Regions from separate parts of the Homo sapiens genome. Here all the other regions are linked to region 2. The links come from fine-mapping of genetic effects on gene expression. A gene starts in region 2. Each other region holds a variant in brackets. All regions are shown on one strand. Distances are between the middles of the regions.

Region 1 (8,178 bases), 33 kb after region 2:
TGGACAGATCACAAGGTCAGGAGATTAAGACCATCCTGGCTAACACGGTGAAACCCTGTTTCTACTAAAAATGCAAAAAATGAGCCAGGTGTGGTGGCAGGCGCCTGTAGTCCCAGCTAATCGAGAGGCTGAGGCAGGAGAATCACTTGAACCCAGGAGACGGAGGTTGCAGTGAGCCGAGATCGCGCCACTGCACTCCAGCCTGGGTGACAGAGTGAGACTCTGTCTCAAAAAAAAAAGAAAAAAAAAAAAAATTACAACTGACTTCAAGAAAAAATTTTAAGCAGGAGCATAAGGTGATCTCAGATACGTTTTTAAAGATCACTGTGGTTGTTATAAAGAATGTGTTGTAGAGGAGCTATTTCAATGGTCACACAAGAAAAGGTGGTGTTTGCATTACTAAAGAGGCAGAGAGAAATGGACAGATTTTATGTATAATTAGGAAGTAGGAATAATAGGATTCAATATTTATTAAATACATACAGTATTTCAGGCGTGTTCTCAGTGCTGAAGATATAGCAGTGACTAAAGCAGGTAGGATCCTTGTCCTGTACACAAAGGCAGCATGGTAGACTGTGGGGTGCTGGAGCTGGCTCATGAGAGCTGATTGTCAAATTTAGAATTTTGAGAGCTGGTTGTTAAAACACAGCTATTATTAAAAATCAAACTATATAAACTTAAATACATTCTATTAAAACCAAAGATAATCAGTACTTAAAAGTAATCACTTCCTAATTATTTTACTACATTTTACTATCCCCTGTGCTCTTGTGATTATTTATATCTATCATATCTGTATGGTAGGAATATTGTATGCAGTGTGTTACTGTACATCCCTTCCCAACTCTACATTTGGTGATGTCTTGTCGGTAGCTTAAAGTTGGCCATGGTAGGAGTATTTATATCACAAAAATCTGCAAATGTTACAAATCAGTGCTTTTTCCCCCTAGAGAGCAGTTGTTAAATATTTGCCAGCGAACCCCTTGATAAGAACACACTATCCTTGTAGGAACACACCCCTAGGAGTCAGGCACCCAGGGTTTAAATCATGGCTCTGCCACTTGCTAGCAATGTGATTTGGCTAAGATACCTAATATTGGCTTCCTCATTCATAAAACGGGACTCATAGTGCTACCTTTGTCTGTTTGTGCTGCTATAACAAAATGCCCATGACTGATGATTTATAATGAACAAAAATGTATTTCTCACAGTTCTGGAGGCTGGGAAGTCCAAGATTAAGGTGCCCAGCAGGTTTGGTGTGTGGTGAGGTCCTGGTCTCTGCTTCTATGATGGCATTTTGAACGCTGCATCCTCTAGAGGAGACAAATGCTGTTCATCACGTGGCAGAAAAGCAGAGGAGAGAGAATCCACTTCTGAAAGCCCTTTTTATAGCAGCATTAATCCATTCATCGGGCAGAGCTCTCATGACCTAAACACCTCTCATGAGGCCGCACCTCCAAACACTGGCACATTGGGAATTAAGCTTCCAACACATCAATTCGGAGGGGACAGAAACATTCAAACCATAGCAAGTGCTATATACATGCTATATATATATATATATAGCACTAAGGCCCATTATAGACTGAGCAAGAGGAGGGGTCAGCTGGGATCAGCAAGCTCTTTGGCTGCCTGGAGCTTTATCCCTAAGCCTCCTACCCCTGAGGAAAGGAGACATTCAGTTCCTGCTCCCTGGAGTATACAGCCACAGACTTCAGGCCCAGCACACCTAGCACTCAGTGGGCCCAGGAGAAATGGCTAAGGTCAGAGAACTCATATCAACAGCAGAGCAGGCTGGACATAGACATAGCCATTCCAAGGGACAGTGGGTCAGTGTCCAGCTTACATCTGGCTCTTGGCAATGCAGGAGGAAGCTCTGTCATTTGCAGACATTTGCAGGTTCGTGTTCAGACCCCTTCTGGGAGAAGTAAAAAAGCTGCTGGTTAGGAGGATAGAGAAGACTACCCAGGAAAAGAGATGGTTGAATTTCTCTGGGCTCGAGTTCCCAGAGAAGCAAGAGATTGAGGTCCCCAAATCCACTCTGGGCAGCAAGGTTTGCAGAAGAAGGGAAAGAAGCATAGAAGGGTGTGTACCACTAAGGATGCACAGCCAGGGCTGAGAGGAGTGTGGGACAAAGGCTGTGGAGAGCTAGTTTCAGAGAGGAAAAACTCCTGGGCTCTGGCCTCTAGTTGAAGGGCGGGAGTGCACTGATTCCTGCGGCCTGCAGGGGGTGCTCAGGCCCAAGTACCGACAAGCTTCTTTCCTCAGCCCCAGTAGGAAGCCTGGGAAGGACCCAGGACCCACAGAAGGGGCCTCCTGTAGTGAGGGGAAGAGAAGCAAGGCTGCTGAGTCTTGACTACCCTGAGAAGTCTTGGCTTGTACCCTGTGACCAACACCAGGGTGGCCAACATATCCACAGCCCTGGGTTCCCAAATGTGTACAATGTTCTACTTTCAACTCCTGCCCAAAACTTGAACTTCAACCTGGACTGCCTGCAGTGCAGATGACTCTGCTGGCCTAGTCCCTGGGTGGAGCAGGAGGATCCAGTAATGGTTTCTAAGCCATTCTCGGGTACACAGGTGAATTAGGAAGCAACAGGGAAAAGGGACCATAAAGTAGTATTCTGGGATAGATGGATCCGGGGTGCTGTGAGGGGGACCACACCAGGTGTGTGGGGAAGGGGTCAAGCTGAAAAATGATCATCCAGTATATGTGCTGTATGCCCTCAGACAGCCCTGTTAGGCCAGAAGGAGACTGCACCCTTGGACTGGCAAGTCAGTGCAAGGCCCTGCTAATAGGACTATTGAAGACTCTCACTATGGGTTTTCTGTGGGGTGTTTGTTTCTTGGGGTGAAAGCTTCCCTCTCCCCAGGCAGGCCCAGCAAAATCTGTAGGATTCAGACAGGGTTCTGACAGCTGAAGACAAGTTGTTGAGGAAATTCCTGATGGAGGATCATGGGGTGCTCAGGAGGGAGAATATAAGGTTTCAGAGGCTGAGAGGGAAAGAAAAGGTGAGGGGGAGTCTTAGAATAGTGGCTCCCATTGCCCAACACCCAGAAAGAAGACATGCCCTGCAATGGGGAGAAGGTGAGTATGAGACATTGGCTGTAGCAGCGATGGCATTGCCCAGGCTGCCAAGGACTCAGAGAGTCCAGCCTTGCCCACTGACCTATGAGGAGGGAATGATGTTCACAGCACATTTTCATTCGTAAGTCAGGAGAGGACATTGAGCCTGATGGCAGAGGCCTGGTGACATGTTGTTCCAGAGGTTCCGGAATGTGTGTTTTCCTGTTGGAAGGAAACTTCGCAGAGTAGAAAAGGGATCTGAGACTTTTGGTAAGATTATATATGGGACTGTCAGGGGTCTGGAGCCATCTGTGAGGGATCAGGGCCCTTTCAGCCTTGGCTAGGGAGCAGGGGTCCTGGAACTTCATCCTGGCCCATAGCTGAGTCTGCCCATAATTCTTTTCTGACTCACTAGGCAAATCTCACACAGAAATGGGGCAGCTTTGGGAGTGGGCCCAGGAAGTACTGAGGATAGCAGGTGAGATCCCAGGAAGAGATGGATGTGGGGCCGAGACACTGGAGAGAGAAACAGGACTGTCAGATAAAGGGCGTCTGTGACTCCTAGATCTCATTATGCCTACTACCATAACCTACCCCCAATTCCTAATATTCTCCTACCCTAGAGGGGGGGAAATTGTCAGAAATTTGGCTGCAACACTAGCAACACTACTCAGTACTTGAAATGCATTTTTGCATTTTTTTCATTCAACAAATATTTCTGGAACAACTC[TTA/A]TATGCCAGGCACTATTTTAGGAGTCAGGGATATATAATGGTAAACAAGACAGGCAAAACAAAGCAAAGCAACAACAACCATCACCAGATAAGTAGACAGATGAAAGAATTTCAAGTTTTAGTAAGTAAAATAAAACAAGCAAGGGTCTGAAATGGCTAGATAAGGTGGTCAAGAAAGGCTTCATTGAGAAGGTAGCATTTAAGCAGGAGTCAGCTAGAAATATTGTGAAATTCCAGTTACAGTTCTATTTGTTCTGGGTTGGTTAAATAAAGCTTTTTCCCCCAAGGTGGAAACTACCAAGAAAGACTAATTACTAGTAGTGGTGGTGCTCTCTGGAAGAGAGACACCTCCTGTTTCTGCCTCATTACTGTCAACCCTTCACTTCCAGGCACTTTTTGCAAAGCCCTTTGCCAGTCAGGGAAGGCGAGAGGCTGGGCATGGGGCTTGGACATTTGACAACAGTGAGACATTATTGTCCCCAGACTCACTAGCCCAAGGGTAAAGCTGAAGAGGCTTGGGCATGCCCCAGAAAGGCCCCTGATGAAGCTTGGAAAAAGCTGTTCTCTGAGTATTTCTAAGTAAGTTTATCTGTGTGTGTGGTTACTAAAAGTAGTAAGTATTGCTGTCTCTAGCTGCCTTAGAGCAGGGCTTGACACAGTACACAGCAATATTAGTTCCCTCCTTTTCTCACCTCCCCCATTGTGGAGATAAACTCAATCACAAAAGGTGATCCTCAGTCTACTCACTTCCCTGACTTATGGATGCCTGGACCCATTGCCAGTGTGAGAGTCACAGCTGGACGTCAGCAGTGTAGCCCAGTTACTGCTTGAAAATTGCTGAAGGGGGTTGGGGGGCAGCTGCCGGGAAAAAGGAGTCTTGGATTCAGATTTCTGTCCAGACCCTGACCTTATTTGCAGTGATGTAATCAGCCAATATTGGCTTAGTCCTGGGAGACAGCACATTCCCAGTAGAGTTGGAGGTGGGGGTGGTGCTGCTGCCAACTCTATATAGGGAGTTCAACTGGTCACCCAGAGCTGTCCTGTGGCCTCTGCAGCTCAGCATGGCTAGGGTACTGGGAGCACCCGTTGCACTGGGGTTGTGGAGCCTATGCTGGTCTCTGGCCATTGCCACCCCTCTTCCTCCGTGAGTAAAGCTGGGACTAGAAGCGAAGGATTGAGTTCTGGGCTAGGGTAAGGTAGGGCCAGTTTTTAGGCCTCGGTCAAATTTGGGGTCAGGGGCTATGGGAAAGGGATCGGTCCCAATGGATCAAGATATCTATTTTGTTCTCCCTAGGACTAGTGCCCATGGGAATGTTGCTGAAGGCGAGACCAAGCCAGACCCAGACGTGACTGGTGAGGCCCTGACTCCCTAAGTCTGTCTTATCTGTCTGGTTGTGTCTCTGCATTTTATCACCTTCTGGTTTTTTTTTTTTTTTTTTTTTTTTTTTTTTTTTTTTACTTTGCCATCTCCCTACCTCCACCCCAGAACGCTGCTCAGATGGCTGGAGCTTTGATGCTACCACCCTGGATGACAATGGAACCATGCTGTTTTTTAAAGGTAGGAGGGACTGAGGTTAGGGCGTTTAGGACCTTAGACTTACTCTCCTTCACAAAGGGTGTCCCTGTCTGTGGGAGGTCTTAGGAATTATCTGATGGTATCACTGACAGCTTCTCTCAAGCTATCTCAGTAGGTCAAAGGTTTCTCACTGGGCCCCTCAGTGAGTGTGGGTTTTTTCAGGGGAGTTTGTGTGGAAGAGTCACAAATGGGACCGGGAGTTAATCTCAGAGAGATGGAAGAATTTCCCCAGCCCTGTGGATGCTGCATTCCGTCAAGGTCACAACAGTGTCTTTCTGATCAAGGTACTGCTGGGCCAAAATCAGGGCCAGGCTGGAAAGGGCTGGAATCGACACTGGGGACCCTTCCCCCAAATGGCCTTGGCATGGAGCCCATAGCAATAGGTAGCAGATTTCTTTCCCATGTGCCCTCCTTTCCTGTAAAAGCTTGGGCTAAGGGAGTGTGCATGCGTGTGGGCCTGGCAGGTGCACCATCCAGTGGCTGTTCTTCAGTCCTAGTCTTAGTTCTACACCGCTCTGCTGTACCTCACACTGCTGGCCATCCTTTTTTTCTCTGGCAATTGCTTCCCTTGCCTTCCATGACCCTGTATCAAGTCCTCTTCATAGGGCAAGGCAAGTTGTTCCCAACACAATGGCACCTGGCTAGAAGAGCATGTGGAGCATGAAATCCAGTCTGCTGTGCTCACCAAGTCCCATGTGACCCAGGCTGTGTCTGCTCAGAGGAAGGGGTGCCTTTTCCTACCTTGCCAAAGGTGCTGTGTGGTTGGGGAAGTCCTGACTGTCGGCTTTGTTTTCCCTCCTGCCTCTTTTCTCTCTCTTCTCAAATGTCTCATTCTATCTCAACCAGTTCCCTAATGTTCCTTGGGGATCCATCCTAGCCTTTCCATATACCTTCCCTCAGTGATCTCAACCATCACCTTGGCTCTGAGGAATATCTATGCTGTGGACACTGGATCTAGATCTACTTTCTGAGCTCCAGACATCTCTTTCCAATTGTATGTTCTACAGGCACCTAAAATTCAGCATCCCCCAAACTAAGCTTTGCATCTTCTTTACAAACCAACCTTTCCTCCTGTGTTTCCTGTTTCAGTAAATGACCCCAAAATGTGCCTGATTACTACAAACCAAGTGCACACAGGGTCTCATGATCTGGGCCTTGGTTATCTTCTCAGGTTTATCTCCTCCCCTGCCACATTCACTGTGTGCCAGCCATACGAATCTACATGAGGTTGGAGCACACTGCTTCCTCATGTTTGGGCTCTGCATGCTGCTCCCTCTGCTGGTAACACCCTTTCCTCACTTGTCAACCTGGAAAATTCCTGCTGATTTTTCAGCTCTTGGGCCCAATGCTTCCTCTTTGGTGTGAAACCTTCCACAACTTCTCTAGGCAGACTTAGGCACTCTGTCTATATTCTCAGTGCACTCTTTACACTACACCTTGGTAGTTGCATGGCTAGGATTGCAGGAGTCCTTTCTGCTTTTGTACAGTGAACTTCCTGAAGTGAAAGACAGAGTCTTGTTATCCTCAGTGCCTCTCACAATGCCTGGCATATAGTAGTTATTCAGTGACTGTTTCTTGGATGAATGAATGAATGAATAAATAAATGAAGAAATGAATGAAGAAATAACGTATGGGTGATTGCAGGATGAACAGTTGTGGATATGTTTGTCAACACTGATAGTGTTGCAGATAAATGTGCCACAGGAGTGTCTGGGTACAGAGCTAGAGGCATGTGTGTTATAGTAATAGTGACTGGATTTGCACAAACTGAGAGTGTGTAATGTGCAAAAGGACAGCACATTGTTGTCCACAGATGGACTGAGAATGTGTAGGGCCACAGGAGGATATCGTATAAGCACAGTAGATAAAAAATGTGTGTAAATGCAGAGTGGCAGTATCTGGGGATGCACAGTCAAAAAGAGAGTACTTTTGAATGCAGGGGGACAAAGTCTGGGTATACCCTCCTGAAAAGAAGGAGAAAGGATACCCAAAGTTGCTCCAAGATGAATTTCCTGGAATCCCATCCCCACTGGATGCAGCTGTGGAATGTCACCGTGGAGAATGTCAAGCTGAAGGCGTCCTCTTCTTCCAAGGTCAGTCCAGGCTGGAATCCAAGAACCTGGAGTAGTGGTGGGTTGGTAGTGATGCCAGTAGTGATGGTGATAGTGGTAGTGATGGTGGTGGTGGAGCCACTATGTGGCTTTTTAAGGAAGGGAAATAGAGAAGCCACGTATGGTCTAGAGGTCACGTGAGGGAAGGAGAGGAAGTCATTCTGGTGAAGGCAACTGTGTGTAATTCTGTGTGAATAGTCCCTCATTGTTCCCCATGACCCTTAGGACAAATCTACCCTCTTTAGTCTTACATACAAGTCTCTCCATGGCCAAATCCCTATTGGCCCTTCAGCTTTGACTTTTATTATACTTTTACCTTAACACTAAGCTCCAGAAACCCTATGCTATTCTCTGTACACTCAGTTTGCTCCATGCTTTGGAATCTTTCCTCTCTCTGGGGTTCCATCTCTCCTTGTGTGCCTTTTAATTCCTACTTCAGATTTCACTTTAAGTATCATCTTCCCTGGGAAGTTTTCCCAGACTCTCCCCACTGCCTTTGCTGAGCTGATCCTGTGTGTTTTGCTGCTGAATTTTGGTGTATGATCACCCTCCTTTAGCCATCTCTCTGATGGCTGTGAGCTCCATGTGGTCAGTACCATTATCTGGCCCATCCTGGGACCCAGAGAAAGCACAAAGGAGGGCGTAACCCGGTCTCACCAAATGCCTGTTGATTGATTGGACAAAGGTGACCGC
Region 2 (8,178 bases):
GGGCCCTCCCAGGCAGTCATTCCTCATCCTCCCTCCCTCCTGCAGCCCACAGGGAGAACCCCTTCAGGGTGGGCCCAGCCCTACCCCCAGCAGCACTCACCTGTGGAGGCAGCCTAAGGGTTTGTACAGAGGTCCAGAAGTTGGAGGGGGTGGGGGAGGGGGCACACTAGGTGCCTCACAAATAACCCCTCTCTGCACTGGGGAGAATGCCTTCGTGCTCAGCCTAATCAGAGCCCCTCCCCTGCTTGCCACACTAGCTCTCAGACTGTTCCAGTCTTGTGAACTTACCCAAGAATGCCCACCACCCACATTCCTACCCCAGGTATCCCCAGGGTGATCCCACTAACTTTCCGGCTAAGAGAGCCTTGCTGGAGGCAGTCCTTGGTTGTTCCAGTTTTGCTGGCTGTGTCCTCCCCGGGGAGGAGGGGAATGAAGGGCTCTACAGCTTCAGTCAGGTAGGGAGTGTTATTCAAGGTCTGTTCCTCCCTTCTGCCCTCAGGAGGAATTTGGCTACAATGCAGAGACACAGAAACTACTATGCAAGAATGGGGAAACGCTGCTAGGAGCCGTGAACTTCTTTGTCTCTAGCATCAACACATTGGTCACCAAGACCATGGAAGACACGCTCATGACTGTGAAACAGTATGAGGCTGCCAGGTGTGGGCACTGGCAGGGCTTAGGGTTTGGGGAGTTGGCTGGTATGGGTGGAAATTTGGGCATTAGGGGCATAAGAATTCAGGAAGGAAAGGAGAGTATGTGTTGAGGATAAAGGAGTGGAGACCAGCCTTTATCACCCCCTCCCCAGGCTGGAATATGATGCCTACCGAACAGACTTAGAGGAGCTGAGTCTAGGCCCCCGGGATGCAGGGACACGTGGTCGACTTGAGAGTGCCCAGGCCACTTTCCAGGCCCATCGGGACAAGTATGAGAAGCTGCGGGGAGATGTGGCCATCAAGCTCAAGTTCCTGGAAGAAAACAAGGTGCCAACCCCACCCCCTTGACCCTAGCCCACCTTTCCATCTGTAACACTAACCTTCCCCTCAGACCCTCCCCATTATTGAATGAGGAAATGCAGCCTAGCTGGGGAGTAGAGTGTTCACCCCCTCAACCCCTGGGCCTTTCCAGATCACCCTCCCTCCAATTCCTGGCCCTTTCCTGTTGGAGGATTTGGCTGCTGGTCCCAGGAACATAACTGGGAAAAATCACCCCCTGAGCTGGGGTACAAAAACCCTAGGCCCACAAATCCAGTGAGGTTTCTTCCATCATACTGACCCTTCTCCTTTGACTCCCTGGGTAGAGTTCAGCCCCTACCCCAAAAGCACCATCAGAGCAGAGTCCTTGTGCCCCTGGTCTGTGCCTGGGCTCAGGCTCATAGACCCTCAAGAAGGGCGCCTGAGTCCAGCCTTAGCTGACCCTGCTGGACCCCCAGATCAAGGTGATGCACAAGCAGCTGCTGCTCTTCCACAATGCTGTGTCCGCCTACTTTGCTGGGAACCAGAAACAGCTGGAGCAGACCCTGCAGCAGTTCAACATCAAGCTGCGGCCTCCAGGAGCTGAGAAACCCTCCTGGCTAGAGGAGCAGTGAGCTGCTCCCAGCCCAACTTGGCTATCAAGAAAGACATTGGGAAGGGCAGCCCCAGGGTGTGGGAGATTGGACATGGTACATCCTTTGTCACTTGCCCTCTGGCTTGGGCTCCTTTTTCTGGCTGGGGCCTGACACCAGTTTTGCCCACATTGCTATGGTGGGAAGAGGGCCTGGAGGCCCAGAAGTTGCTGCCCTGTCTATCTTCCTGGCCACAGGGCTTCATTCCCAGATCTTTTCCTTCCACTTCACAGCCAACGGCTATGACAAAACCACTCCCTGGCCAATGGCATCACTCTTCAGGCTGGGGTGTGCTCCCTGACCAATGACAGAGCCTGAAAATGCCCTGTCAGCCAATGGCAGCTCTTCTCGGACTCCCCTGGGCCAATGATGTTGCGTCTAATACCCTTTGTCTCTCCTCTATGCGTGCCCATTGCAGAGAAGGGGACTGGGACCAAAGGGGTGGGGATAATGGGGAGCCCCATTGCTGGCCTTGCATCTGAATAGGCCTACCCTCACCCACCCACCCAGTTTAATTGTGCTTAGAGCCCAAGAAGATTGGGATCTAGCACTAGGAATAAACCTTTCATAAAAGCAGGCCCAGCGAGGTCAATTTGTCGGGGACTCTAGGAGGGTGGCCTGGGTGGAGACAAGCTCAGTCTAATCAAACACCAGAACCCTATCAAGTCAAAAGAGCTGGGGCCAGGCAGCTGAAGTCACAGGTTTCAGAGATGGTTTGAAGGCCCAGTCTTCTCTCCCAGCCTCAGTTGGAGCCAAAGCTTTGTCCTTTAGCCAGCACCAAGATAGCTATGGATCTTAAGAGCACCAGATCCAGAGGGGGTTGGGTTTGCTGACCTTCATCATGCATTCATTCATACAGCAAATATTTACTGAGTGCTTTCATTTGCCAGGGACTGCGTTAGGCCCTGGGGAAACATCAGTGAATAAAACACGGTCCCTGCCCACAGTGCTTAGGGCCTACTGAGGGAAAGAAGTAACCAGGCAACTACAAAACAGTGATAAGTATTAGGATACAGAAGTACAGAGGGCGCTGTGGGAGCACAAAGGAGGGGCATCTGGCATGGACTGGGGTGGAAATGGGGATGTCAGTTTGAAAGCTGAGACCTGGCCAGGTGCGGTGGCTCACTCCTGTAATCCCAGCACTTTGGGAGGCCGAGGCGGGCGGATCACCAGGTCAGGAGATCAAGACCATCCTGGCTAACACGGTGAAAACCCATCTCTACTAAAAATGCAAGAAAATTAGCCCGGCACGGTGGCTGGCGCCTGTAGTCCTGTAGTCCCAGCTACTCGGGAGGCTGAGGCAGGAGAATGGTGTGAACCCGGGAGGCGGAGCTTGCAGTGGAGCCAAGATTGCGCCACTGCACTCCAGCCTGGGCAACAGAGCGGGACTCCATCTCAAAAAAAAAAAAAAAAAAGCTGAGACCTGAAGGGTGAGTAGATGACAAACAGGCAGGGTAAAGGGAAGAGCATCCCAGGCAGAGAGGCTAGCATATAATGAAGGCTCTGAGTAGGAACTGGGAGGAATTGCTTGGAATGAAAAATGAAGAGGGAGTGGCTAGATGAAGACTGCAGGCTGGTTAAGGACTTTTGCCCTCTGGAGAAGGAGCTGAGAAGTGTTTTAAGCAGAAATTTGACTGCATGGGAGAAGTATAGAGTTGAGAAAAGTAGTCCTCTGAGGCTTAAGATAGTGTCATCTAGACTCCAGTTCCCTCATCTTGGGTAGCATAGTAGCCCCAGCCCAAAACTGCAAGCATGATCCCCGTCTGGGTTTCCTTCACAAGCACTGGAGCATCTTGTGCTATGTGCTGAACTCAGGTGGATAAGAGGTTGAGGCGGTTCCCAAAGCTCCTGCTGCACCCAGGTGTTGAGCCTAAATCTGAACCTTGTGGAGAGGTCACAAGAAAGATCCCTAACAGCACTTTGGTTTAGTCAGGGCTAGGTGTCATCACCTGTATGCCCTTTGGCCAAGGAAACCAGAATTTTTCAGGATTTTCCCCACCTCTGGAAGGCTGGAGGAAGGGGAAGACCCACTCAGCAGATTCCCATAGTGCAGGGATCCTCACAGGCATGACTTTGCCCTTTGTCATGGATACTGCAGCTCCCAGACAGTCTTCTGGGCTTTGATCAGCCTGCAATCATCTGACTAGAGCTTGATTTTTGGGGCAGGGAAGGTGGTCCTTATATGAGCTGCCACTTAATGGGCCACTGGGGATTTTTCAACATGAAAGGTACCGAGTCTCCAAATGCTGGTTGTAGGGCCTAAAAACAGGGCTCAACTCCAGGTTCTGCCACTTTCTAGCTGAGTGATGAGGGCTAACGTCTGGGGAGCAAGATCCCTATTTTTTCCCATTGTAAAATTGGGCTAATAAAAGATGCTACCTACTGACTATTAAATAATATATGTAAAGTGGCTAGTTCTGTGTCGGCACATAATAACCACTCAGTCCCTGTAAACTGTTACAATTATTTTCCACTTGGGGCTGCTTTTTGCACAAGGCGATGATTCTGAGAATTGTCCAGTGTCTTTGGTGTGAGGAAGGGAGTCGCTGGATGGTCTGAACCAGAATTTCCTCAGGAGGGGGCTCCTGAAGCGCCCAAAGCCTAATCAAATCCCCCACCTTTCTACCCCTTAACTCCTTCTCCCAGAGTTCTGGGTACTGCCCTTCTGCCGCCCAGAGATCGTGCTGAGGTACAGACGGTTTCTACGTCTTCCTGGTCAGCCGATAGACTAGCATATTCCATAGGAGCACTCCAAGGAAGCCGGAAAGGGCGCCTCCAGGAGGCAGGCGGCCCAGACAGGCTCCCAGAGTCCGAAATCCCTGCTGCCCCAGCTGCCTTTTCTTGACGGAGTCTCATCTCAATCCCTGAGACCGACTACACCGCCCTTCCCGGAGCCGGAGGCAGCTGGCGGAGATCCGGGATCCGAGATCCGGGATCCGGCTCGCCGGCCCGCCGGCTCCCTAGCAGCACCAAGGAGGCAGCGTCCGCAGGAGGTGGAGGCGTTGGCGGGGGGGCGTGCGGGTGCGGTAGGGGTGGGCAGGCGGGGTGGGCGGGGCCTCCGCGGCGGCGGGCGGGGCGTGGGTGGGTCTTCCCTACTGGAGTCACCCCCTCCCCCGGCCGGTCCGCAGCCCCGCCCCGGCCCCTCCCTCCGGCCTGTGCGGCTAGTCCGGCGGCGGCGCCGGCGCGGGGACAGGCGGAGGCGCGGGCAGGGCCGGGCGGACGGGCGCTGGCAGCAGTAGCAGCGCCGCGGGCCCTTCAGAGTGGCCGCAGTCCGAGCTTTGCCCTCGCATCCTGTTCCAACGCGGTGAGTGCGACGGGCGGGCCCCAAGGGTGCGTTTGTATTCCTGTCAGCCCGGGTCTGGGTCGGAGCGTCTGTGGGTGGGGGCACAGATGATTTTCAAAAGCTGTGCCTCTCTCTGCCCACGTGAGGCGTGTCCATGTCCGTGAGAGCAGCAGGGGGATTCTTCGGGCTGTGGCTGCTCACGTGAGGTCCCTGTTTTGAGGCGGGGAGGCGCGGGTGGATGGGTGATGGTTCCTTAGGGGAGCGCGGGGTTTGGGAGCTTGTGTGTGTTGGCGGAGGGTGCTGAACGCTGCGGCCGAGGGTGGTGGTGGTGGTGCGTGCTGAGTGGGACTCTGGAATATTGTGGCCCATCTTGTCTGAAGGGCTCTTTTCTCCCTGGTGCAGACACCTCCACCCCTTGCTCCCCCACCCCCACCCTACCCCACCCCCCGCCCCTTCCATCCTCTGGTACCCACAGGCCCACCAGTCAGGATGGAGGACACCCTTTCCTCCCCATGCACTGCTCTGTGGACAGAAAGCCTCATGTGGAGGCTGTTTTTTTGTAGGAAAGGACCCCTCTGGTTCTCCTGTAGCCTGAGCCCTGCCTGGAGGACCCCAGGCCCCTCCCTGGTTCTGACCTCCTCCCTTCTGCAATTGGCTTCAGATCCTGGGCTGCAAACCTGCAGGGACAGATGGTTGCAGGTTGGAGGGGCAGGCTGCACCCCAGGGAGGTCAGTTCGACTGAGGGCAGGCCCTGGGCTTGTTCTTGGTGTGGGGGTTCTCTGATGTGGACAACAGAAACTCAGGACTGGCCCTAGCAGGAAGATCACATCTGGGAGGTCACAGCAGGTGCAGAAAACATCACAGGTCTCCCTTGGCCAGTCTGTCTAGCTCACTGGTGCCCATTCATCCCCTAAGCAGGGGATGATTTGCTGCAGAATTGGAATCAGAGCTGCAGGCCTGACAGTAGCCCTGCCTCCTTGGGCTTGTATGCCTCCAGTGACAGAGCACTTGCTACTTTCTGCTGTGGAAAAGCTTCCTTATATTAAGCAGAGGTCTCTCTTCTTGGGACTTTATTCACTTGTCTTGTTACTGCCATTACTTTTGCATCTCTCTCTGATGAAAGGGAACTGCAGAGATTTAAACAGAGCTCTCCTGTAACCAACATATACTGAGTACTTCCTGTGTGCCAGGTACTGCCACAGCCACTTAGGAGACAATGGCATTCTTGCCGAGAGAACTTGAGCAAAGAGTCCATCGTTGGGATAGTATAGCCCAGGTTCAGAAAAGCAGAAAAACCATATGGTTAGAATAGAGAGCGTTCATAGAGTGTCACAGGTGACTTAAAACTCAGCAAACATTTATTTACGGGGGCGAGGGGGCAGGGGGAGTGTGGAGGGGAGGCAACTAAGACCATCCTCTAACACATTTAGCCTAACAGTGGAAACTAGAAGTCAAATCATCGAGGTAGTACAAGATGGGATTTAATCATGGGCTCATGGTACAATCTGTGGAAGCCCTTGGCTTGAGAGGGAACCTTGGGAATCTCAGATTTTGAGAAAACATCCCTCTTCTCCCAATTTACAAATAAGGGAATGGGGTTGGAACTTACCTAGAGTTTCACCTTGTGTTAGTGGAGTTAGTTACAGCATTAGGACTAGATCCTAGATCTCCTAACTTTTTAAACCTAGCCAAATTTCAGAGGCAGAATTGAGGATGTAGTCATAGCTTGTATCTGAAAGGTGAAAGAAAAGGTGTAATTGAGAAGACTACCAGGGTTCTCGCTTGTGTGGGTGGGTGAGTGGTGGTGCCTTTTATTTATTTATTTATTTAGATTTATTTATTTTTAGCATATTTATTTTTATGCTTTTAGGATGTAAAAGCATCATGTATAACCTCTGCCTTTTGGAGATTTGCAATCTTGTCCATCTGTTCCATATTTCTTAGTTTCTCATGTTTCTGTTTCTTTACTCACTGTTTTCCCAATGTACGTATCAATGTCCTATTTGTCTCTCAAGACCCAGCTCAAATACCCCTTCCTCTGGAAGCCTTCTTTATTCTGTACCATCCTCAGAGTTAGGTACTTCCTCCAGTTTGCTGCTGTAGCAATTTGAACATGTCAATATCATGGTACTTATCACATTGTAGTTACGTGTTTCCATTTCTGTTTCTCACATTAGTCTAAAAACTTGTGAAAGACAGGGAGTGTGTCTGATTCAGCTTTGTGTCTCTATTTCACAGCTGAAGGACCTGGCCCACAGTGTGCCCAGAGAAGTTTGATTGAATGGTTCATTCACTTTACTCAGTCTGGCAATGTTGGGGGAGATGGCCATGAATTTCATTGCTTTCCTTCCCTGCTAATCTTATTTAAAGGATTCATTGGCTTTAAGGACTTTGCCTCATCCAAGGCTTCATTTGTTTCAGAGAAAGCCCAAAGACTGTAACCTGCAGTCATTTGTCATTTTTTTGAGGTCTCAAATGATCAGATAAACCTGGAAGCTAGTGAGTAGACGTGAGTTATTTTAGCAAGCAAATGAGCCTAGCTGACCTCTCGCATCCATTTTCAACAATGCCTTGGTTACCTCCATTCACAACTGTGTAACTCATGTGTACTGGGAATCCTGTGAGATTGTAGGAGGAAGTCCTGGGGAAAATTAATGCTATTTGAGAATTTGGAGAAACTGAAAAGCCTTGAAACACATCCTTTGCAGATGTCCAGGATCTAGTGGAGTCAGCACTGGCTGTCTTCATTTGTTCACAATCAGCTTCTTGCTTGACTCCCTGCATCTGGCTTCCTGTCCTCCATCCCCTGAAAACCACATGCTCTGAGGTTAATGAAAGCCTCTTTGGGGCTTAAATAATGGGACCTCTGCAGCATTTCACTCCCTTGTTCATGAAGTTCTCTTCTCCCTTGGCATTCATGACATCTGTTTCCTGATTCTCTTGCTTCTCTGGTTGTGCCTTCTCAATCTTCTTTGCAGACTCTGCTTCCTGGGCCTATCTCTTAAATATTGAGGTTCCTTGGGACTTGGTGATAGACCCTCCTTTCTCTCTTTACCCTCTCAGGGTAATGTCATCCACGCCCATGGCTTCAGGAACCATCTCTGCACCAACATCCACATTCATGTCTCCAGGCCAGACCTCTCTCTTAGGCTTCAGCGTATCTTTCCAACTGCCAACTGGACCTCTCCACTTGAATTACATCCCATAGGCACCTCAGATTCATCACATTAAACAGTGAACTCTAGCTGGGTGCTGTGGCTCATGCCTGCAACCCCCACGCTTTGGCAGGCCA
Region 3 (8,178 bases), 70 kb after region 2:
TAGGCTTACAGGTGTGAGCAACCATGTCTGGCCTGATCTATCTGTTAAAGTTATGTTTGATCAAGTTCCCCTTCTATTTTTTTCGTTGTTGTTGTTTGCAGTTTTGCTTTTGTTTTTTAACTGGAGAATCATGTTGCTTGTCCTGAGTTTTCTATGGTTTGGATTTTTCAGACTCTCTCCTGTGGTCATATTTACCATGCTCCTCTTCCCCTGGATTTCCTGTAAATTGGTAGTTAGTTCTAGAGCCTTGATCAGATTCAGATTTGAGCATTTTTGTGTTTTGCTTTTGCAAGAATATTTCATAGGTGGTATTAAATACTTCTACTAGGCCGGGCGCGGTGGCTCACGCCTGTAATCCCAGCACTTTGGGAGGCCGAGGCGGGTGGATCATGAGGTCAGGAGATCGAGACCATACTGGCTAACAAGGTGAAACCCCGTCTCTACTAAAAATACAAAAAATTAGCCGGGCGCGGTGGCGGGCGCCTGTAGTCCCAGCTACTCGGGAGGCTGAGGCAGGAGAATGGCGTGAACCCGGGAAGCGGAGCTTGCAGTGAGCCGAGATTGCGCCACTGCAGTCCGCAGTCCGGCCCGGGCGACAGAGCGAGACTCCGTCTCAAAAAAAAAAAAAAAAATACTTCTACTAAAGGCAAAGTCTGATTGCCTCTCTTTTTTGTGATGTTAGTGGCCTTTGGTGGTCATTGTCTCAACTCCTTTTAAAAGGAACAGCCCCTCCTGCACTCCAGCTGATTATTTTTGGGATTGGGGTGAGGAAAAATATAGTCTCAATGCAGCCAGTTAAAGGGAAACTGAAAACTAGATATTGGTGTAAAATAGCCCAATTTCTAAACGTTAACAACAAATTCTATTTTTTAAAAAGCACTGTGCAGGCCACACACAATCTATCTGAGGCTTGCATCAGTCTGCAGGTTGTAGGTTGGAAGTTTGCAAGACTAGGGGGTGTGAGTCAGTGACCAAATAGAGGCCTAGTTGCTCACTTGCCCCTGGGATGGTCACTGTGGGGGCTGCAACTCTGAACTACCTATGAAGCTTCTAGGAGTAGGGGGATAGTACTGCTGAAGAGCTGGGGCGGGTTTGCTGGGCAGTGACCTCAGCAAGGATGTTGGAGTGGCAAGAGGATTCTCAAGGATCATGCACTGGTGGAGACATTGTGAATTGAGGATAGAGGTGGGGGCCAGCCCAGGAAAGGGGCCAAGTCACTCTTTTACAACTGTGTTGCTATGACCATGAGGGCTGCAGAGAAGGTTTGTGCTCCTGCAGAAATGAGGCTAGAATTGAGCAAAAATTATATTCTCCTTCCTATTGTAGGATATTCATAGAGCTATGGATTGAATGCATAAATGCATGAATTCATGAATTAAATGAATGATGAATGAATAAACTTTACTACCTGTATTGAATTCATACTCTGCTCCAGGCCTTATCGTAAATGCTGGAAATGTATACTATGGGGCAAAGATGTTCTTACCTCCTGGCCTTCACAGCCTGGTGAGGAGACAAAGAAAGAAACAAGTGGTTATGATCAGTGCGATGAGCTCTCTGGGGCTGGGGAAGTACAGGAGGGGCCCCTGACCCTGCCTGTGAGAGTGGTGGGGGAGAGGGCAATGGGTCAGTTTTAAGAAGGGACCTGTATACTGATGTCTGAAGGAGAGGTAGGTGATAGCCAGGTGAAAATCGAGAGTAAGGGAGGTGGGCTGGGAGAGGACAAGGGGGCATGTCCCAAGCAAAGAGAGAGAAGGGGAGTGGCTGGAGGTAAGGCTGAGAGGCAGACAGGGGTTCATGACAGCACATAAAACCTGGGGAGGAATTTGGACTTTATCCTGAGGGCAGTGACAAAACAATTAAGAGGATTCCGTTGGAAAATTACTTGATTAGTTTAGCATCTCAGAAGAATCATTTGGGCTGTACTGTGCAGCTGAGATTGGAGGAGACCAGATAGGAAGAGAAAGACCAGTTATGATGTTTTTGCAATGATGCAGGTTAAAAAAAAAAAAGCTAGTAGCCTGGGCTATGTTAGTTATGTGGGGTGGAGAGAAGGGGAAAGCTTTAAGTCAATCACTGATTCCTGAGCAAGTGAGTACACCTGGCTTCACCACTAAGGCATTTGTGGATGAACGAATGAAGGAAGGAAGGAATGATACGTGAACATTTAATGTATTTTATATGTAAGTGTCGCATGAATCGATGCAGGAGTGAAGGTGTGCGTTCTGGAATAAATGCATGTGTGTGAAAGCAAAGGCCGGGGTGGGCTGCGCTTGGAGGGAGATGTGCCAAGCTCCAGAAGGGCCTCCCAGATGGCCAAGGGGGGAGAAACTGCCCTTCCAGGACAGATCGGAAGGATGAAGCTCTTTGAAGCAGGAAGGTACAGGCTGACAGGGATGGCAGATGGATTGGTGTGTGTGACTCAGTCAGGAGATGGTGAACTGGTCCCCAGATTCCAGAAGTGTCCAGCCAGCCCTCATGAAGCAGGCTGTGGCTGTGGAGGGCATGGAGGCCCTAGGGTGCTGTTCCTGGAAGGTTTTAGCAGGAGAGTCCTGAGGCAATGGAGGGTCTCTAGGGAACAGCAGGTATTCCCTGAGCCTCAGCTAAGTTTCAGGTGCCTATTGAAAACCTTATTCCATAGAGTGTGAGTTAGGGGGAAGTGGGGGTGAGGAGAGGCGGTGATGGCTGCCTAGAAGGTGGATGGGCAAGAGCCCCTCCTCTTTGGGTGTCTGTGGGCCCACGTCATTTGGAAGCTGAGGATGGTGAAGCACCCTGCCTGAATAACTCTCGTCAGGTGTGCAGCCACCTTGGCGTAACCACGCCCACTCCCAGCCCTGCTGTGTCTGGTTGCCCAGCAGCAGGGTCTTGGGACTGCCTGTCCCTTAGTACTGCCTCTTGGACCAGTCAGGATTCCTGGTTTCCCTGGTAACGGGAAGCACGTCAGCAGTCTGGGCGCTCCCAGCCGGTCCTGGTGCTGCGGTTGCCGAGGAGACGCTGCAGCCTAGCTGGGCCCTGGCAGGTGAGGGGTGGGGGGTGGTGCTGGGAAGCCCCAAGCCCAGCCTCAAGCTTGCTGGGGCTCAGGACCTCAAAGCCCACCCTTGGGTTCAAACTGCTGTGCAGGTCCTGGACAGGGGCGGGATCCCTGAAGGCCTTGAAACCACACCCTATTTATGCTGACAGCTATAGGCTCTGCAGGGCCCCAGGCAGCTGGGGTATTCCTTAGGGGCTGAGTCTCCTGGTATCCCTAAGACTGGGCTTGGCTTAGGCACTGAGGTAACCACTGGAGGGTGGGATGGAGATTCAGGATTGGGGGAGGGGAGCCAGGGCGAGGAAGAAGAGGTGTGAGCAGAAGGGGCTGGGGTCTCATGAACCTCCCTTTCTCCTCCCTTCCCCACCCCCCAAGGAGATTCCCTAGCATGGTGGTCCTGGCCCCTCCCTAGCAAGCTCCAAGCGGGGGAGGATCTTGCCTGGCAGACGCTCTGCCCTGGTGAGAAGGGGGCGGGATGAGCTTTTCTCTGCAGCCCAGCACCAGGCTGTGAGCCCAGCTGGCTGGGCTGGAGGGGCTGTGAGGAGGGAGGGTGGAGGCAGGAGGGGCCGGGAATGAGCGCCATGTTCTCCCAGGACTTTTTCCTGGCCATTATCCTGCAGGACAGCAGCGCAGGTGAGGGGCAGCATGAGGTTGGGCCTCATGTGGGGTGGGGCTGACAGGGAGAGAAGAGTTAGAGGACGCATGAGCGGGTTACAGGGTTGGAGTGGTGTGGCTCTGCCGGCAGACAAGGGTGTATGACACAGATGCGAGGTATGTGTGTATGTGCATGACATGTTTGCTTGCATCTGTGTGCAGCAAGGGTCAGGAAGTGAGCGTCTGTGGTGTCTGCACACATTTGGCAGGGTTTGACGTGTGCCGTGTGTCTGAGTGTGGGTCCGCCTGTGTGTGTGGTACCCACACGTGTGTTGGGGCCATTGTGGTGTGGTATCTGCACACCTGTGTGGCAGGGGCTCGTATGTTTAGCTGCATGCACACACACCTCTGTGGTGTCTGCATAAGTGTATGGCTAAAGTTTGTGTGTGTGTGCCCCTGCACATACATGTGCACCTGTGTGTGATACCTGCCATCTGTGCTGGCATTTTCTGTGTTGCATACCCTGGTGTTTGTGGCTGCACAGGTGTGTGGTAGGGCTTGTATGTGTTGTGTGTCTGTGTATACATGTACGTGTGCAGGAGCTAGAAAGTGTTCACCTTCGTGTTAACTGAGATAATAGATA[T/C]GTATGAAAGGAGGTTAATTGGGGTCACCCAACATTCATTGCTCCCTTCCTTCTTCCCTCCCTGCCTTCCTCCTTTCCACAGTGTGGCCACATTAGCCACCAACAGGGCCCAGGAGGAGACCTGAGCCATGTCCCCTACTGGTGGCCCCACATGTGGTGACTCCAGACTATAGGCTCTAGGCAGAAGCAGGAACTGTGTTGTGGTATAGCTCTTCCACCACCCCTTCTCAACCATGGGGTCTCAGAGGGGACCGGGCATAGGCACCAGCTGTCTGCTCTTTGGGTAGGCTGACCCTCACCAAGCCTCCCACCTGGCAGATTCCTTCTGGAACCCCAACGCCTTCGAGACGGATTCCGACCTGCCGGCTGGATGGATGAGGGTCCAGGACACCTCAGGGACCTATTACTGGCACATCCCAACAGGGACCACCCAGTGGGAACCCCCCGGCCGGGCCTCCCCCTCACAGGGGAGCAGCCCCCAAGAGGAGTCCCAGGTGAGGCTCACAGGCCTGTTGATTTTGGGCCAGGGGTGGAGGGAGTGTGTGCTGCTGGAGTAGGATAGGACACTCACTCACTACTCCCATCCCTCCTCCTAGCTCACCTGGACAGGTTTTGCTCATGGAGAAGGCTTTGAGGATGGAGAATTTTGGAAGGTGGGTAAGGGGACCTGCTTTACCACGGGATAGCTGGAGGAGGGGCATCATTTTGATACTGATTCCTCAATCCCCTTCCCAAGGATGAACCCAGTGATGAGGCCCCAATGGAGCTGGGACTGAAGGAACCTGAGGAGGGGACGTTGACCTTCCCAGCTCAGAGCCTCAGGTGAGCTGCCAGATGCAGTGAGCTGGCAGTGGGATGGATCTGTCTGGAAGGGGCCTTGGGACAGCTCCATTTATGGGAGCCCTGTGCCAAGTATTACCATCTGCCTTCAGCCCAGAGCCGTTGCCCCAAGAGGAGGAGAAGCTTCCCCCACGGAATACCAACCCAGGGATCAAGGTTTGTTCAAGACTGACACCCATTCTGAGTCTGGGGCCCTCTTATTTGTCAGACAGCCCCTAATGTTGTGCTCTGAGGGGTCTCAGCGCAGTTCCCCAGGTCCTGAGTTAGGAGTTCTTCCAGTCTCAGCACAGAGCCCTGTGTCTGAGCTGGAGGCACTTCAGTTTTTAAATCAACCAGCCCAACAGCCAGGTTGGGGGCCCTTGTAGTCTTAGTTCAGGTGCTTTTTTGTACTAGCTGGGGTCTCATCTGACATCTCCCTCACCCTAACCACATCCCCCTCTCCCTAACCACATCCTGTTTGGGGAGCTTCTCCGTCTTAGTTCAGAACACCCTGCCTCCTGCCACACTCTGTAGTCAGGAACTCTCCAGTTTTGACTCAGATCCTCTACCTCCTGCCCCTCTTCTGTGTCTGGCAGTGTTTCGCCGTGCGCTCCCTAGGCTGGGTAGAGATGACCGAGGAGGAGCTGGCCCCTGGACGCAGCAGTGTGGCAGTCAACAATTGCATCCGTCAGCTCTCTTACCACAAAAACAACCTGCATGACCCCATGTCTGGGGGCTGGGGGGAAGTAAGGACCTGAGCCGGGGGTAGGGGGTGGTACTGTGAGAGTGTGAAGGGAATTATGAGAGATGGGAGGTCTGACCTGCCCACAAGCAGGCTGGGGAAGGGGGATATTGGCCCATCCTAAGTGGCAGCCCTGTGGGATGGATGAGCGACCCCAGGCCAGGACCTTGGGAGATAGTCGCCTAACAACGGTGGAGTCAATGTGAGAGATGACACGTGACCTCCACTAGAGTGAGGCCTGCAGGGCGGGCGGTCTGACACCAAAGCAGGGGCCCCAGAGCTGTGGCTAACATCCCCTGAGCTGCAGGGGTCAGAGATCAGCCACCATCCTGGCTGGAGTCCCACTGAGTGCCTGCTTCTGGTCCTGCAGGGAAAGGATCTGCTACTGCAGCTGGAGGATGAGACACTAAAGCTAGTGGAGCCACAGAGCCAGGCACTGCTGCACGCCCAACCCATCATCAGCATCCGCGTGTGGGGCGTCGGGCGGGACAGTGGAAGGTGGGAATAGGGCTTGGGATTCGAGGGTGGGAGTTCATCCAGCATCAGAGTCCTCCTCTCTAACTCTGTTATTTGCCTCTCTTGTGCTGCTGGACCCAGAGAGAGGTACTATGCCTATTTTCCCCCTCCTACACCTGGACCAGATGCCTGGAAGCACCCAAGCTCCCCTCTTCTGCCCTGCCCCTTCCCACCCGCTATGCTCCACCATTACCCTCCACCTCAGCATGCTTGCCTGTCTACCCCTCCCCCCCAAGAAGGCAGCACCTATGGGGGACCAGCTGTGGGCAGAAGCCCTGGAGGAGCTGTGATGGGCAGGGAGGACGTGGGTGGGGTGGGGACCAGGCTCAGCACTGGATGGTACTGGGAGACACTGAGGTGCCCCTTCCCCAACAGGGACTTTGCCTACGTAGCTCGTGATAAGCTGACCCAGATGCTCAAGTGCCACGTGTTTCGCTGTGAGGCACCTGCCAAGAACATCGCCACCAGCCTGCATGAGATCTGCTCTAAGGCACGGCCCCCTCCACTCCCTGGACTAGTTGCCACCTTTGCTCTACAAGGGTGTGGGTGGGGTCACTGAGTGCTGTAGGGGGGCCCCAGGGCAATGAGGCTCTAATAGATTCTCCCTGGCTCCTCGCCTCCCTTCCTTCCTCAGATCATGGCCGAACGGCGTAATGCCCGCTGCTTGGTAAATGGACTCTCCCTGGACCACTCTAAACTTGTGGATGTCCCTTTCCAAGGTCAGTGTCAAAACCCCTCCAGGTCCAGCTCAGCTTTGTTGGCAAAGGTGGGTGACCCAAGGAAAGGCATGAGCTCCTGGACAGCGCTGATAGAAAAATGAACACATGAAGACTGAATACTCCAATACGTGGAGGGACTCCGGTTAAAGGGAGGCAGGGGACGAGATGAAAGTAGGGCCTCGGCTGGGCAAGTGTCCAGCTTATGCCCTGCTGGTGGGGCTGCGGGTGAGCAAGGTCTGCCACCATGATCAACCTTCTCTTCTTTCCCATAGTGGAATTCCCAGCGCCTAAGAATGAGTTGGTCCAGAAGTTCCAAGTCTATTACCTGGGGAATGTACCTGTTGCTAAACCTGTTGGTATGTGTGTCCTTCTATACCCAGGGGCTGCTACCTTGATCCTAAAACTCTGCCCCTACCCTCTGCCTTCCAATACTTCTTCTACCAGACCTTCCTCATGCTTGGTGTCTCCCTACCCTTTAAAATGCATCCCACCTCCCCATACTTCTGTCCTAGCTCTATTTCCTGTCCTGCCTATAGCAGCAGTCAGCACGCCTTCGCTGAGCATCAGCCACGTGAGTGGTGCTGAACCAGGCACAAAGGGAGACCCCACTCCTTCATCCCATGGAAAAGCTTTGGTGGGATTGGGAGGCTGATGTTAGATGACTGGAGGACACCAGACAGCAGCCTGTAGCTGGGTTTAGTGTTACAGCACCAGCTGTGGGCTGGGAGCATCTGGAGAAGGAAACAGTGAGCATAATTGTCACATACTTCATTGTTGCAAAGAATTTTTTTTTTTTTTTTTTTAAAGACAAGTCTCGCTCTGTCCGCCAGGCTGGAGTGCGGTGGCGTGATCTTAGCTCACTGCAACCTCCGCCTCCTGGGTTCAAGCAATTCTCCTGCCTTAGCCTCCTGAATAGCTGGGATTACAGGCTCCCGCCACCACGCCTGGTTAATTTTTGTATGTTTAGTGGAGACGGGGTTTCACTGTGTTGGCCAGGGCTGGTCTTGAACTCCTGACCTCAAGTGATCCACCTGCCTCGGCCTCTGAGAGTGCCGGGATTACAGGCGTGAGCCACTGTGCCTGGCCTGATCTGGTTAACTCTTATATTTCAGTGCTT

Direction of the effects. Alleles are on the strand shown, and positions count from the first base shown. SD is a standard deviation of normalised expression in the study named. Not every link is listed here.
With allele TTA in place of A in region 1, the expression in aorta of the gene that starts at base 4,757 in region 2 is lower (moderate effect, 0.52 SD a copy in GTEx).

What was found. PIP is the estimated chance that this variant, and not a neighbour inherited with it, causes the effect.
Region 1: its variant is fine-mapped to the expression of TRIM3 in aorta (GTEx, PIP above 0.99).
Region 3: its variant is fine-mapped to the expression of TRIM3 in whole blood (TOPMed, PIP above 0.99).

What each region holds. Positions count from the first base shown.
Region 1 is chr11:6,437,645-6,445,822 of GRCh38, reverse strand. It overlaps HPX (hemopexin), which reads left to right and starts at 4,836. Exons shown (of 10, transcript NM_000613.3): 1 at 4,836-4,942; 2 at 5,093-5,151; 3 at 5,285-5,356; 4 at 5,537-5,658; 5 at 7,314-7,467; 6 at 8,171-8,178. The coding sequence starts at 4,860. RefSeq lists an enhancer at 2,399-2,468. The variant TTA/A (reference allele first, on the strand shown) is at 3,797.
Region 2 is chr11:6,470,520-6,478,697 of GRCh38, reverse strand. TRIM3 (tripartite motif containing 3) reads left to right here and starts at 4,757. Exons shown (of 12, transcript NM_033278.4): 1 at 4,757-4,907. It overlaps ARFIP2 (ARF interacting protein 2), which reads left to right. Exons shown (of 8, transcript NM_001376558.2): 6 at 500-657; 7 at 806-980; 8 at 1,430-2,179. The coding sequence ends at 1,585. RefSeq lists a silencer at 4,631-4,860 and enhancers at 4,218-5,156, 5,157-6,096.
Region 3 is chr11:6,400,228-6,408,405 of GRCh38, reverse strand. It overlaps APBB1 (amyloid beta precursor protein binding family B member 1), which reads left to right. Exons shown (of 15, transcript NM_001164.5): 3 at 4,584-4,759; 4 at 4,862-4,918; 5 at 5,002-5,087; 6 at 5,198-5,261; 7 at 5,681-5,830; 8 at 6,197-6,324; 9 at 6,424-6,429; 10 at 6,718-6,832; 11 at 6,977-7,061; 12 at 7,334-7,417. Among named protein-coding and RNA genes, the nearest start is that of SMPD1, 14 kb to the right of the region's middle. RefSeq lists a silencer at 2,793-3,087. The variant T/C (reference allele first, on the strand shown) is at 4,266.